Linked DNA regions of Homo sapiens. The protein of the gene in region 2 purifies or fractionates together with the protein of the main gene of each other region. This does not show direct contact. Each region holds a gene or a part of one and is shown on either strand. Other genes may lie near its edges.

Region 1 (3,657 bases), on a different chromosome or scaffold from region 2:
AGAAGCAGGGAAAGCAGACTGTCCAGGGGTATTGATGGCCGACTGCTCAAATGAATCACATAAGAATGAAGGGATGGTCAGGCACGGTGGCTCACGCCTGTAATCCCAGCACTTTGGGAGGCATAGGTGGGCGGATCACTTGAGGTCAGGAGTTAAGAGATCAGCCTGGCCAACACGGTGAAAACCTGTCTCTATTAAAAATACAAAAATTAGCTGGGCGTGGTGGTGGGTGCCTGTAATCCCAGCTACTCCGGAGGGTGAGGCATGATAATCGCCTGAACCCGGGAGATGGATGTTGCAGTGAGCCAAGATCACACCACTGCACTCCAGCCTGGGTGACAGATAAAGACTCCGCCAAAAAAAAAAGAAAAGAAAAGAATGAAGGGATGCCGGGATGCAGACAGACTCTCCTCCTGATAGATGTCTTCAGTGCAAAACTGACCTTTTTCAGGAACTTGGGGATGTCTCGTGACAGGCCTGAAGCACTGAGGCCAAATCAAGAAAAAATAATGAACTCCATTCCTTAAGAAATATGGATGAAATATAACCATGTCCTCAAAGTCTTGGAGGGAATCCCCTGATGTCCACTTCAGAGCCTAGTTTAATAACTCTGAACTCCAAGAAAACCTAGATCCAGGTTGTTCTGTTCACTGCTCTATCCCCAGACTAAGATCAATATCCAACCCACAGCTAAATAGGAAATGAGGCCAAACTGCAGTTTATACTCCATTTGCGAAGCCCTCTCAATTAGAAATTTCTGGCCAATAATCACTGGCCAGAAGGAACAACACTGCACCAAACAGCTTTTGAGGCTTTTGTACACTTTTCTTCCAGCTTACCCAGAACTCAAAACTCATTGTTCACATCTAGATACATACCCTTAAATTTTAATCTAAGAAAACTCAAACAGAGCAACAGCACAGAAAAACCATGCTGAGTGTCCAGCTTAGCACTGTGGCTCCCAAACACATTTCTTCAGAAATGACCATGCACCTTTCATCTAACTTAGTTTAATCTTTTGAGCCCTCTTCATCCAACTGGTCAGCAAACCAAAGCCTACTGAACTACAGGTTCTTCTGTTCTTTCTTTATTCTTAAAATGGAAAGGGAATACTAACAGATTCTGAGAAATAAACAATGCGACTTTCTGGGAAATCACAAAGATAAATCAAAATTTGTTTGCAACTCAAACTAAACTCTAGATATTTGCTTTTCTCAATACAGACTATCTCCAGTATGAAAATCTGAAATCCTTCAAAACCTAAAACGTTCCGAGCAACAACATGACCCCAAAGTAGAACATTCCACACCAGGCCGGGTGCGGTGTCTCGCACCTCTAATACCAGCACTTTGGGAGGCTGAGGCGGGTGGATCACGAGGTCAGGAGATCGAGACCATCCTGGCTAACACGGTGAAACCCCGTCTCTACTAAAAATACAGAAACAAAATTAGCCAGGCATGGTGGCGGGCACCTGTAGTCCCAGCTACTCAGGAGGCTGAGGCGGGAGAATGGCGTGAACCCAGAAGGCAGAGCTTGCGGTGAGCCAAGATTGCACCACTGCATTCCAGCCTGTGTGACAGAGTGAGACTCTGTCTCAAAAAAAAAAAAAAAAAAAAAAAATTCCACACTTGACTTCATGTGATGGGTCACAGTCAAAAACAGAGTGAAATCTTTTTGCATGCATAAAATTATTAAAAGTATGACATATATTGCATATTCAGGCTATGTGTAGAAAGTATATATGAAGCATAAATGAATTTTGTGTTTAGACATGGGTCGCATCCTCAAGGTATCTCATTATGTATATGCAGGCATTCTAAAAATCTAAAAATATCCGAAATCTGAAACACTTCTGGTCCCAAGCATTTTGGGTAAGGGATACTCAACCCATTTCTCTTTATAACTTGAGAACTTTACCGAAAGTGTTTATGAATACGTTAGTGCCACCAGAAATGGGTTAACCAAATGCCCATTAAACTTCGAGGGGAAAGATTCACTTATTTATTTTTGCATCTACAATTTCTGTCATATAGCAAGCATTTAATAAGCTTTATTAAAATACTAATAATGGGCCGGCTGCGGTGGCTCATGCCTGTAATCCCAGCACTTTGGGAGACCGAGGCGGGCGGATCACTTGAGGTCAGGAGTTTGAGACCAGCCTGGCCTACGTGGTGAAAACCCATCTCTATTAAAAATATAAAACTAGCCAGGTGTGGTGCTGCACGCCTGTAGTCCTGTCCCAGCTGAGACAAGAGGGTGAGATAGGAGAATTGCTTGAACCCGGGAGGCGGAGGTCGCAGTGAGCCAAGATTGCACCACTGCACTCCAGCCTGGATGATAGAGCGAGACTGTCTCAAAAAAATAAAATAAAAAATAAATAGGCAAAGAGGCAGCACTGGGGAATAAGGGAAGGAAGTAACCCCCAGAGAGGGAGGCAACACTCCTCACCCTCCCCAGAAGAGTCAACTCTGATGAAAAGAGTTCTCTAAACTTTGAGGCTAAAAATCTAGCAGTGTACTAGATCTCAGCTGCCAACAGTTCTTCCATCAATAGATTCAATATTTAGCAAAAATTAAATAGTGAATTAATGAGATTTTATGAGACCACACATCTCCTCTGATTCCATGTCATTTAAGATGGCTGACTGACAATTCCAGTTGATTTGCTGCATTGCGCAAAAGTTTCAGAAATCATCAGGCAGCAAATCTCATGCTCATTTAAAGGTCCTCATTTCTCTTCTCAAACCTGCAAAACGCTTTAAATATTAGAAACTGATGTCATCTTACCAGCACCTGCTAGTTTTCTGTAACATTGAGCTTATAAAATCAAATCTCTGCATCACAGCAAATGCAAAAGTGCTTTCTTCGTTTTTCTCATTTTCACTGAATTTTAAGTTCACAGAATGGGATTAATCATAGTAACATCACACTCTCATCCATTCACACACTTATTACCTGCTTTTGTTTAATTATTATAATGCTGCAAGCACCTGTGAATTCACCACCCAAAACAAGACAGGATCTAGACTAAGAAACCACACTCAACCATACTACTCCCCCAACCCATTCATGTAATTTCCCCGGAATCCTCTTCTCATTATTTCCTTGCTTTCCTCCTTTTATGTTAATTTTATTTACAGTTTTAGTTAATCTATTCCTTAAAAAGTGTGTATTCTTTATTTTCGCTATATTAAGCATTTAATATACAATAGTTTGTTCATTAATTCTCCCCACCGCAACTACTGAAATGTAATAAGTACATTAATAAGACTGCCAAGACCCAAACTTACCCTAATTAACGTTGACATTATTACTTAGACAACATAACACATTTATTTCATTAGGTCTGCTGCCAGGTAACAAAAAGCTGTACTTTGTAACAACTGGATATACCATAAGAAGCCAGGATCAAAAGTAAATACAAATTGCTGGTTTTTATAACTTTAAAATATTTGCTATTTCCTTCCTTTTTGTGGCAACACTTCCCTTTGAGCAACCCACGTTTCATATATGCTACATTTTTTCTTAGGAAACATAACAAACATGGTTCTGCCAGAAGGAAGAATGGTGAGTTTTCAAGATTCCACCCAAGCTGGAAAGTATTTTTTTAAAACATGTGCAACTGGCAGGAAAAAGAACATGGAAGAGTCTTCTCAGA
Region 2 (3,031 bases):
TTTCCTTTTCTCTCATCTGTGTGGGTGCTTGAATTTGGTGAAATGCGTTTAGCAAACCAACTGTGTGTTTGTAATACTGTGAATTCTTGCGTTTTGCATTAAGTGTCTCCCCCATTTTTGTAATTTGTAGAGAAATATGTGCTGGTGTTGGGTGTCTTCCAAGCATTTTATGGAAATGGAGGCTCCATTCCTTAGGAGTAAAAGCTGGCGCCAGCACTTGGCTCTTGTTCTGTCTAGGTGAACTCTCATAATTCTTGTTTTACCCTGTTGGATTTGCACTTTACATATATTTTTGCTCTATTACTTAAACATATAGCAGCTTTTACAAATAATGCCTAACATGCCTGCGCTGAGAAAGTGGCAGATCTACACATATCATACGCAGAGTTGTTCTCTACCTGATGGGGCAAAACCAACCACATGTTCTTGGTTCCTCCAAACGAATGACATTACTTGACATTACTGCCTGAGTGTATCTTCACAATAGCAAAATGGTTTGAGATTAAGCATTTGGAATCTTATGTCATTTTGTATGGGGTCAATCCACCATAACGTGTTTCTCATTTGGTTTTAATTATTTCCAGAAATCATAAAGTCACAAAACTGGAAGGGATCTTCAGAGATCTAGAGTGTTTCAAGCAGAAAACACATTAGTTATACAGGGCAGTTAGATATGGCTGAGATGTAAACAAGAGAATCTAAAAGAATGTTCAAGGAATAGCTGTTTTTGAACATTACTTAGTAATGGCATGAGTGGGAGGAGAGACTTTCAGCACCTTGAGACAGGGCGCTCTCTGGAACCAGCTTTGTTCCTCTTATCGAAAGCATATATGACAGTTTTTTTGGCTCCGGCCCTGTGGTGGGGGAGGTAATTATTGCCTTCATCCACATAAATTCCTTCCTATACATTCCCCTCAGACCACCCCAGAGGCAAAACTGAAATGGAAATCCAGTGGCACTTAAAATTCACCCTGCCCCGTTTGGCTGCGATTCCCAGGCTTACAGCACTGCCCTTATGGAATATCACATTTTCATTTTCTGAGATTCATTTTATAAAAGTAAAGGCCAGGTGCCATGGCTCACACCTATAATCTGAACACTTTGGGAGGACAAGGTGGGAGGATTGCTGAGCCCAGGAGTTCAAGACCAGCCTGGGCCACACAGCAAGATCCTGTCACTACCAAAAATTCAAAACTTAGTTGGGTGTGGTGGCACACACCTGTATTCCCAGCTACTCAGGAAGCTGAGGCGGGAGGATCACTCGAGCCCAGGAATTCAAGGATGCAGTGAGCTATGATTGCACTACTGCAGTCCAGCCTGGGCAGCAGAGCAAGGCCCTGAATAAATAAACAAAAGTATAATTTATTTTTGCCTGATATTAATCACTTCTTAAGGCCCAAATTTTTGTTTTTAAGCAAAAGGATAGCTCTAAGTGTGGGTTGCAGTTACTGGACATAAATATTCACTAAATGAGATTCCTTTGGTTATGGCTGTTCATAGAATTTTAATTCTATGTCAGTGTTCTTGTTCACTAAGATATTTCGAAGTGAGAGAAAGCATTTTACCAATACATTCTTATTTTTTCTCCTTTAAAATAATATTGAATTTTTCCTGGTACGAAGACAGATATTTATTAACTTGATTGGAAAACACAGAAATTAAGATCATGTTGAACACTGAGTTATCTAGATGATCCCTGAGATTTGAATGTTCATGTCAACCGTGTTGAGCGCTCACCAGCCACCAGGCTTTAGGCACTGGCAGTGCAAGGTGTCTGAGGCCCATTCTCAGGCTGGGCAGAGGTCACACAGTGAGTAAATGGGTCTTTTCAGTGCAATGTGGTTATGATAGAGGCATGCCAGGGTGCCACTAACCCAGCAGGTGTGGCAGGAGGGGCTTCACAGAGGAAAGGGACTTTGAGCTCAGTGTTAAAGGATGAGGAGTGAGTCATAAGGGGGAAAAATGGAAATGACTTTCCAGGCTTCAGAAACAGCATAAACAAACAAAGGCCTGAGAGCTGGAGTCAGTGTGGTGTGTCCAGGGATCACAAGTGGGCTGGAGCTGCCGGAGAACAGCCAAGTGGCTCAGCTGCCATCCCAGAATTGAGCTCGTCACTATCAGATGCTGCTGCTCCCTGGCCTCAGAGGAAAGCAGCACACAGCTCACCACGAGGGGTTTCCCCAGAGGCTCCTCCTGCAGCCAATGCTACTATTAGTTTATATTATAATAGTATCAGTTTCTTTTTCTTTGGAAATCCCTAGAACTGTTAACTGAAGGTGACTCAGGGTAACTAATTCTGGATCTTTGGGTGCACAGCCTCTCACTGGAGTCTGAGAGGAGGAGGTGGAGACTATCAGTGCACGGCCCGCAACCAGGAAGGACTCCCAGACTAACGCCAAAGGTGTGTTGGGCTCAGCTGCTCCACTGTGGAAAAGGAAAGCCCTGGCCCTGTGGCAGGAGAGGATTGTTCTAGTCAAGTGTGGCGTTGCACGGACAGGCGGTGCCGAGTGTTTGGGTGCAGACACAGGCAGCTGCTGCCCTCCACTTCCTGCTCTTGCAAGTCACAGATGATTCCAGTACAATGTGGGAGGTCCTCCTTACAGGGGCACTTGCAACAGGAAGGCAGAGAGTTTCGTCAATTCAGGTACAGGTCTGTCTGGGAGACCTGGCCCTGTGGAGGCAGGAACACCGTGCAGGGGCATGGCAGCGCCTGTCTTTGCTATCACATCATTTGCCTTTTCCTTGTAGGACCCAAAGATCTATGTCCAAAACTTAGTCCAGAAACATCTGCATTCCTGTTTAAACTTCAGCTCAGTTTCTTAACCAAGAACCACGTCAACCCTCCAGGGTTGTGGTTTGTATTTTTGCCTTTAAGCATTATCTCCTTTCCACCAAGAAGCCTACTTAGGTTTAACACATGAAAGCAGTGTCTAAAAATTAGATCGGTCCTAAATTGGAATGGGATGTCTTCCTTGCATGTCCCATACCAGGGAATTTTTTTAACACACAGTGTAGAGCCTTTGCCAGAGAT
Region 3 (3,657 bases), on a different chromosome or scaffold from region 2:
GTAGATGTCACTTATTATTAATATCAAGAACCATGGGAGGAAGAAGAGGATTTGCAGAAAGGGGAGCTCAGCTTTGTAGCTACTGACTTAGACAAACAGTAATGAAGGAGCTCTAAAGCCAGTTGAAAATGCAAGACTGGCCTGGAGGCAGGGCTAGGACTGGAGTCAGGGGACTGCCTGACTTGTCCCTGGCCCCCCGCTCTGCCTCAGGGTAAAGACTGGATTGTTTTCAGCATAAACACACTGATCATAACAGGTTAGGTTACCCAGACTAAGGGTAGAACTGGATAATTATGTACATCTAGGGTACTATTTTTACACTTCAATTTTAACATATAATAATTATACATATTTATGGGGTACAGAGTTGTATTTCTACACATGTATAAAATGTAATGGTCAATTCAGGGTAATTAGCATATCTGTCTCCTAAACATTAATCATTTCTTTGTGTTGGGAACATTTAAAATTCTCTCCTAGCTGTTTGAAAATATGCAATAAATTATTGTTAACTATAGTCATCCTACAATGCTATAGAGCACTAGAATTTATTCTTCCTATCTAATGTAATTTTGTATCCATTCACCATCCTCTCTCCCTATCTCCCCTCCACTTCCCAGCCTCTAGTAACCACAATTCTAATCTCCACTTATGTGAACACAACTATTTTAGGTCCGCATACGAAGGAGAATGCGCGGTATTTGTCTTTCTGTGTCTGGCTTATTGCACTTAACATAATGTCCTCCAGGCTCATTAGGGTACTATTTTGCAATTTTCTTTTCTGTAACTGAAACACACACACACATATACAATGGAAATTAAAGCTGCTTTTTTTTTTAAGTCTCTTGAAACAATTTTTACCTGTATTATATGCACTAGACTTACGACTATTTAATTATATTTGCATTAACAAAGAAGTGCTGGACTGGGCTTAGTGGCTCATGCCTGTAACCCCAGCACTTTGGAAGACTGAGGCGGGTGAATCCTTCGAGCTCAGGAGTTCGAGACCAGCCTGGGCAACATGGTGAAACCCGTCTTTACCAGAAATACAAAAATAAATTACCCAGGTGTGGTGGCATGCACTTGTGGTCCCAGCTACTCTGGAGGCTGGGATAGGAAGATCACTTGAGCCTGGCAGGCAGAAGTTGCAATGAGCCAAGATTGCACCAGCACCATTGCATTCCAAACTGGGTAATAGAGTAAGACCCCATCTAAAAAAAAAAAAAAAAAAAAAAAAAGCTGCTTGGGACCTACTGAGTTAATTTCATGATTATTAGTGAAATCAATCTGAAAAATACAAATATTCTAGGGTATTGAACCAACTGGAAGTCTTGAAGTGTTTTAAAGAGACTATAACCGATGTTATGGAGAATTAAGATAAAGACAGAAACAACTTGTGAATTTGGCAACTAGGAGGTCCTTTGTGACTTGAGAGTATAATTTCCATGCAGTGATTGTGGTTGGAGGCCAGATCACAGAGGCCTAAAGAGTCAGCAGTGTCATAGCCAACAGATACAGTACTGAGTTCTGCTTGCCTTTAAGTCATTACATCCCCAAACAAACCTTAGGAGGGAGAAGCTGTTATTACCCTCAGCTTTCCATTATAGGTAAGGAAAGTTATTTTCAGATGGGCTAAGTAACTTGCCCAAGGCCACATAGTGATGGAGCGCATCCGTCTGACAGCACAGCCCATGCTCCTGTCTGCAAGTCACCATCAGTGGCTCTTTGAAAGCAAAGTGAGGAAGAAACATGTCAGTTGAGAGGGTGGCAGAGTGGAAAAGAAGGTTAGTGTGTTATGTGTGGTCATGTTACTGGGGCCTTGGAGATCACTTCGTTCTGCTTTTCATTTTGTAAATGAGGAAACAGGCCTCGAGGCGTAAGGATTCTTAGGCAGGGTCACACAGCTAGTTATGCAAAACTGAAACCAGATTCCAGGTCTGACGTCGGTATGGATCACCTTCAAGCACTGCGTAGAATTCTTTCGTTTTTACTTTTTACTAAAATTATTTTTAATATAGTACATTATTAATGGTATCTTAAGCCTTGGCCCTTCAGATATTGTTCAGTAAGAGTGACTTAGGGGCTTTTTTTTGTTTTTTGTTTTGGTAACAGGTTTATTGAGATTCAATTCACATGCCATAGGCAATTTACCCATGTAAAGTGTACATTTTAGTTTTAGTATCTTCAGAGAATTGTACAGTCATCACCAAACTCAATTTTAGAACATTTTTATCATCCCCAAAAGAAACCTTCAACCACTCCTCCCCTGTGTTCTCCCAACTCCCTAGCCAGCCCCGGGCAATCGCTTATCTACCTTCTGTCTCAACAGATTTATCCATTCTGGACATTTCCTATAAATGGAATCATAGAATGTGTAGTCTTTCATATCTGGCTTCTTTCACTTAGCATAATATTTTCATGTATCAATCAGTACTTCATTTCTTTTTTCTTTTTTCTTTTTCTTTTTGGTAGAGATAGGGTCATGATATGTTGCTCAGGCTGGTCTTTAACTCCTGTGCTCAGGTGATCTCCAGCTTCGACCTCCTAAAGTGCTGAGGTTATAGTTGTGAGCCACCATACCCAGCCAGTACTTCATTTTTTTTGGTTGCTGGCATTAGCCTTTTCTCCAAGGAACCTGGTTCTATTAAAGATTTTTTATTTGTCAGTCTATATGCTATTTATTAGGCATGGTGGCTAATGCCTGTAATCCCAGCACTTTGGGAGGCCGAGGTGGGCAGATCACGAGGTCAGGAGATCGAGACCATCCTGGGCAACATGGCAAAACCCCGTCTCTACTAAAAATACAAAAATTAGCTGGATGTGGTGGTGCGTGCCTATAATCCCAGCTACTCGGGAGGCTGAGGCAGGAGAATCGCCTGAACCCAGGAGGCAGAGGTTGCAGTGAGCCGAGATCGTGCCACTGCACTCCAGCCTGGTGACAGAGTGAGACTCCATCTCAAAAAAAAAAAAAAAAAAAAAAAAAGTTACTGTTTTCTATTAGTAATTTATTCATTTGTTTTGATCATTATGGGTTCAACATCTCATTTTGTTTGAGGGGTTGTAAGTCATACTATTATTTATTTTGATGTTGAGATTATTTCAACTTTGGCCCATGAGAGCTGCTTCAAGTTGGCTTCCATGGCATTTTGACATGTTCACGATTCTTTGAGCACTTTACTACTTTGTGATGCGGGATTATTCTAGGCTCATCTTCTGTCTCTCTTGCTATAAGCCTGTTCTCCAAGGAACCCACGCTCTTTTAAATATTTTTATCCATTAATCTGTTTACTCATCTGTTAATCTATGAAAAACCATGAGTTTCTCCTGATACCTTCAATTCCAGCCTAATACCACAGGGCTCATTCTTCCCCCTTTCATGTTTGTAACTTACTTCCCAGAAGTTAAGAACCTGGCTCTCATTACCCTCAATATGTTTACTCCTTTTCTCAATCCTAGAGGTCACATAAGATAGTCTCAGAATTGCTAGCCCATACCACTACAGAAAACAAACCTGCTAACTGGAATTGAATATTTTTGTACAATGCCTATTAAGTGAAATGGGTATACATGGAGTGCAGATTTTAAGTATACAGTGCAAAGAGGGAGTATTTCTTTTCTTTTTTTTTTTTTCTTTTAAGACAGGGTCTCGTTCTGTCT

What was found.
Region 1: the proteins of WDFY2 (region 2) and RBM17 purify together in Homo sapiens (affinity purification with mass spectrometry; 3 studies listed by BioGRID and IntAct, with this or other methods). This does not show direct contact.
Region 3: the proteins of WDFY2 (region 2) and MESD purify together in Homo sapiens (affinity purification with mass spectrometry; 3 studies listed by BioGRID and IntAct, with this or other methods). This does not show direct contact.

What each region holds. Positions count from the first base shown.
Region 1 is NC_000010.11:6,091,932-6,095,588, reverse strand, and holds part of RBM17 (splicing factor 45), read right to left. Parts: intron 1-3,657. UniProt on the Homo sapiens protein: Splice factor that binds to the single-stranded 3'AG at the exon/intron border and promotes its utilization in the second catalytic step. Involved in the regulation of alternative splicing and the utilization of cryptic splice sites.
Region 2 is NC_000013.11:51,762,454-51,765,484, forward strand, and holds part of WDFY2 (WD repeat and FYVE domain-containing protein 2), read left to right. Parts: 3' UTR 1-3,031. UniProt on the Homo sapiens protein: Acts in an adapter protein-like fashion to mediate the interaction between the kinase PRKCZ and its substrate VAMP2 and increases the PRKCZ-dependent phosphorylation of VAMP2.
Region 3 is NC_000015.10:80,983,221-80,986,877, reverse strand, and holds part of MESD (LRP chaperone MESD precursor), read left to right. Parts: intron 1-3,657. UniProt on the Homo sapiens protein: Chaperone specifically assisting the folding of beta-propeller/EGF modules within the family of low-density lipoprotein receptors (LDLRs).